Regions from separate parts of the Homo sapiens genome. Here region 2 is linked to region 1. The links come from fine-mapping of genetic effects on gene expression. Tissue or cell type: whole blood. Region 1 holds a variant in brackets; the other region holds the start of a gene. All regions are shown on one strand. Distances are between the middles of the regions.

Region 1 (2,763 bases):
TATAATTTAAATATATGCTAAGTCTTATATATTGTAGATAATACAGTTCGGTGAGCTACAAATGCATTTCTAAAGCCATTGTAGTCCTGTAATGGAAGCATCTAGCATGTCGTCAAAGCTGAAATGGACTTTTGTACATAGTGAGGAGCTTTGAAACGAGGATTGGGAAAAAGTAATTCCGTAGGTTATTTTCAGTTATTATATTTACAAATGGGAAACAAAAGGATAATGAATACTTTATAAAGGATTAATGTCAATTCTTGCCAAATATAAATAAAAATAATCCTCAGTTTTTGTGAAAAGCTCCATTTTTAGTGAAATATTATTTTATAGCTACTAATTTTAAAATGTCTTGCTTGATTGTATGGTGGGAAGTTGGCTGGTGTCCCTTGTCTTTGCCAAGTTCTCCACTAGCTATGGTGTCATAGGCTCTTTTGGGATTTTTGAAGCTGTATACTGTGTGCTAAAACAAGCACTAAACAAAGAGTGAAGGATTTATGTTTAATTCTGAAAGCAACCTTCTTGCCTAGTGTTCTGATATTGGACAGTAAAATCCACAGACCAACCTGGAGTTGAAAATCTTATAATTTAAAATATGCTCTAAACATGTTTATCGTATTTGATGCTACAGGATTTGAAATTGTATTACAAATCCAATGAAATGAGTTTTTCTTTTCATTTACCTCTGCCCCAGTTGTTTCTACTACATGGAAGACCTCATTTTGAAGGGAAATTTCAGCAGCTGCAGCTCATGAGTAACTGATTTGTAACAAGCCTCCTTTTAAAGTAACCCTACAAAACCACTGGAAAGTTTATGGTTGTATTATTTTTTAAAAAAATTCCAAGTGATTGAAACCTACACGAGATACAGAATTTTATGCGGCATTTTCTTCTCACATTTATATTTTTGTGATTTTGTGATTGATTATATGTCACTTTGCTACAGGGCTCACAGAATTCATTCACTCAACAAACATAATAGGGCGCTGAGGGCATAGAAGTAAAAACACCTGGTCCCTGCTCTCAGTTCACTGTCTTGTTGGACGAGAAAACAATAACGATAAAAGACAGTGAAAGAAAATAACGATAAAAGACAGTGAAAGAAAATAACAATAAAAGACAAGGAAAAAATAACAATGAAAGTTGATAAGTACATGATAAGCGAGGTTCCCCGTGTGTAGGTAGATCTGGTCTTTAGAGGCAGATAGATAGGTCAGTGCAAATACTCTGGTCCATGGGCCATATGAAAAGGCTAAGCTTCACTGTAAAATAATAACTGGGAATTCTGG[A/G]TTGTGTATGGGTGTTGGTGAACTTGGTTTTAATTAGTGAACTGCTGAGAGACAGAGCTATTCTCCATGTACTGGCAAGACCTGATTTCTGAGCATTTAATATGGATGCCGTGGGAGTACAAAAGTGGAGTGTGGCCTGAGTAATGCATTATGGGTGGTTTACCATTTCTTGAGGTAAAAGCATCACATGAACTTGTAAAGGAATTTAAAAATCCTACTTTCATAATAAGTTGCATAGGTTTAATAATTTTTAATTATATGGCTTGAGTTTAAATTGTAATAGGCGTAACTAATTTTAACTCTATAATGTGTTCATTCTGGAATAATCCTAAACATATGAATTATGTTTGCATGTTCACTTCCAAGAGCCTTTTTTTGAAAAAAAGCTTTTTTTGAATCATCAAGTCTTTCACATTTAAATAAAGTGTTTGAAAGCTTTATTTACCTAATTTGTCTTGAAATATTCCTTATAATTCCTTATAAAATATTCAGAGACTGATGCTATTAATAAACCAAATAAAGGATTGATGATTATCTTATCGGAGTGATTCCCTGGAAAAGGTAAGTGCTTTTCTGATTTTATTGCTGTCCAAGTTCCCGGTTGATGAGCCTACTTCCTGTCTTCTTTGGCTGGCCTTTTATTCATCAAGTTTTTTTTTTTTTTTTTCACCTTTTCTTTCCCAACATGAGCATCCTTGCTATTTTCCAGTACGTAATCACTTGCACCTTTACAGAAAGGTCATATCCTTGCTGTATCTAAAATATTGCCATGCTAACATATTGTAAGATGCTGAGTCAAGGTAGAAAAATGCACAATATATTTCCAAGTGTGCAGCTCTCTTCAGAAAAAAAAAAAGTGTGTCAGCAAGCCCAAAAGGAACATGACAGCTTATCAAATACTTATTCATTTCCTCTGAAATTTGTTCTTAAGAGATAAGGTCAGTAGGGAGACAAGCTTAGGTAATTGTCTGTTTGGCTGTTACAGGCAGGGAACCTTTGTGGTAGTGCACAGGTAGAATAAGTCTATAGAGAATGCCTCTGATTAAGTCCTCTGCTATAAATAAAGGGCTGGATTTAAGATATTCTTTCGGGTAGAATGGACACAGAATTAAAAATGTGAGAAACAGCTTTAAACTCTGTTAATAATGTTTCAACATCAGCTTATGTTTTATTTGATTCACTTCGTTAAGCTTAGAATCCAAAGTCTACTACTAGTAAAACCCAGATTTGCCCTTGAGCATTTCAAGGTTATAGGATGCCTGGTCTTCCTGTTAGGATGCTATACATTCAACTTTGACACCTATGTTTTCTCTTGCAGTAAATGGGATACCACTATTTTGTAGTTTGCAACTAGGGGGGAAGTTAAACTACCCAGTTTGGACATTTTCCTAATTTGGGGTGATTGGCCAAACTTGTAGTAAAAGGCTGAATTCTTATCATTAGGTCATTTAGTTCTTAAATGAAGATTTTTTTT
Region 2 (2,763 bases), 26 kb before region 1:
GTAGATGAAGAGCAAATATCTGCCTTTGGTGCAAGTCAGCTCTGTACATCCAATCCATTGGTAAGACATGTGAGGAATTAAGTGTCGTTCTCGCTATTGAGTTCCCAGCCTTGCCATATTCTCAAAGAACTACACACTGAAGTTGCAGAAAGCATATAATAGACGACATAGCTTCAGTTATTTAAATTCAAATTTTAAAAGTACTTTACATAATCTAAAGGTACATGTACAAGACCATTCAGCTTCAGCAATAAATAAAGTCTTACTCTAGTGAAAATGCAGGAAGCTTTGCGGAAATATTACCTAGCACATTTTGAAATAGAAGCAATGTTTTATTTCAGAGAAGAAAATGAAGGTTGAAAGGTTTTAAAATATTAAAGACAGTTTAGCCTCAATCGAAGAAATAACATTTTCTAGAAACAACAGAGAATAAAAGTTACAACAAAATTATCAACAACTTGCAAATGATTCAAAACAGATTTTATGGACAAAATGCTGAAAGGTGGGCCCTGTACACCAAAGGGCACATACAAATCCACATAAAGGCAAAGCACCAGTTAAATGATTCACAGTCTCATCTAAAGCCCATCAAATAGATACATCTGGAACATCTTTGGATGTACATTGTGACTTTTGTATCTCAACTAGCACTTTGGGACCTTGGACAAGGTGTTAGGAAAGAAATCAATATTTGCTCAGGATCAAGACTTCTCAAGATGACTGCGTGAGGTAGAAGGAAGAGGGAGAAGAAGAACTTGCCCAGAGTTCACTGTTCATCTACTATGTCTGATTCTGTAGGAGTCTTCATGGCCATGTTCAGTAATGATTGCATACTGACAGTACTGATAAAACTATCAGTGTTTTGTTCTCAGAGCTCTTGGTCCTTTCATTTTGTCAGTGTGTTTTTGCCCTACGTAGTGGGTCCACATACCAACAGAGACATGTACAACTTGCCTCTATCATCAACTCCTTATGGGCTAGTTGAGCTAAGTTATTCCTGGTGGCCTCTGAGTAAACCGCAAGAACAGAAGCATTACTAAGCATCCCCGTCTGAGTGCAAGGGTGTGTGTTGGCAGTACAGCCCCAATCTTGCAAAATCCTTCTTCCAATGTTCCTCCCCTCTCTGTATGAACCCTGTGTTGGGGGGCAGAAGATGGAAGCCCTTGGCAAGCTCGATCGAACCAAGCTACTAAATTGCTGAGCTCGTTTTAACTGAAGTGTGAGAAGGAGGTTTAAGGCAAGTAGACAACATCCTGTTGTTGGGGTGCTTCTCTCTTTTTTGCACATCTGGCTGAACTGGGAGTCAGGTGGTTGACTTGTGCCTGGCTGCAGTAGCAGCGGCATCTCCCTTGCACAGTTCTCCTCCTCGGCCTGCCCAAGAGTCCACCAGGCCATGGACGCAGTGGCTGTGTATCATGGCAAAATCAGCAGGGAAACCGGCGAGAAGCTCCTGCTTGCCACTGGGCTGGATGGCAGCTATTTGCTGAGGGACAGCGAGAGCGTGCCAGGCGTGTACTGCCTATGTGTGCTGTGAGTATGATACGGTGGACATGGGCCTGCTGAGGGTGTGGGCGGTGGGCAACAGCAGCTGGGGCCAGGGTGGAGGCCGAGGCAGGCAGGGGCGCCGGCGTTAGCAGCTCGCCGACGCCTCCTCCGTGGCCCACCCTCAAGTCCAGCCCAGGGCCGTGGTGGAACACACTTTCGCCTCAATCCCTCGCTGGGGATTTCATTCCCTGGGCCTCCTGCTCTCCAGAAGGCCCTCACCAGAGCCTTTTGGGGCAGCTGCAGAGAATGCCATTTCGGGTGGTGAAATGTGGTCCACAGTTTACCTTCGCTCCGGGAAAGACCCAGGCTCCCCACTTCCATTTTGACCCCTATCGGGTGGCGCCCTGCGAGCCTTACTCTAGCTCTCTTTAAACGACTTTTGAAGTGTCATCCCAAAGGAAGAGCATGACATTCAGAGAGAGGAGGCACATTAAGAAACAGAGTCAATTACTTTAAGAATGCAATGCCAGTTAGGTCGAGATGCTGAGAGAGGAGGGGGATGTGTGTCAGTAAAATCACCTCTCTGGATCTGCTGATGTAGCATCCTTTAGAAAAGTAGTGGGGGGTGGGGAGGGGCAGGGGATTTCAGAAATAGGACCCTTCTTGATAAACGTTAGGACTCACAATAGTCTTAAAGGGAATGGAGGGAAAACACCCTTGTTATGATTCAGCTTTGCCATTTGCCTAGGCATGTCTCATTCTAAGGCTTCATTTTGAATCAAATTCATCTGCGTCTTTGCTCCAGGGCTCCGGAGTCAGGCAGATCTGAGACTTTGTCCTGTGCTCGTCAGATGTTAGGTTTGTGACTTGGGCAAATTAACCTCTCAGTTCCCCAGTTTTCTTATCCATTGAATAGGTATCATATTACTGCCTACCTCATAGGATTGTAAGATTAAGTGCCATAATGCAGTAAAAAAATTAGCACTGGGGCCTGACACCTAGTAAATGTTCAATAAATGTAAGCTATTGGTATTATTATTATACCAAAGATATATTATTATTTTATCTTCTCTTTTCAGTTGATTTCTTTTAGGAATCATGGGGGCATTTCTAAGGAAGGACCTAGCTCAGGCATTATTGTCAGCAGGATAAAAAAAAAAATCCATGAAAACAGCAGCCCTGCATTGTAGGTTCTAGACAGAAACCAAATGAGGTTAAATGCTTGGTAGTAAGTTCAGCATCTGATAATACCCCACAAGAGTTTGAAATACCTTATGG

What was found. PIP is the estimated chance that this variant, and not a neighbour inherited with it, causes the effect. A credible set is the group of variants that fine-mapping cannot tell apart.
Region 2: it holds the start of SH2D1A, and the variant in region 1 is the best candidate, but not a certain one, in a credible set for the expression of SH2D1A in whole blood (TOPMed, PIP 0.72).

The regions. Positions count from the first base shown.
Region 1 is chrX:124,371,423-124,374,185 of GRCh38, forward strand. It overlaps SH2D1A (SH2 domain containing 1A), which reads left to right. Exons shown (of 4, transcript NM_002351.5): 4 at 1-1,738. Among named protein-coding and RNA genes, the nearest start is that of SH2D1A, 26 kb to the left of the region's middle. The variant A/G (reference allele first, on the strand shown) is at 1,290.
Region 2 is chrX:124,345,250-124,348,012 of GRCh38, forward strand. SH2D1A (SH2 domain containing 1A) reads left to right here and starts at 1,314. Exons shown (of 4, transcript NM_002351.5): 1 at 1,314-1,530. The coding sequence starts at 1,394.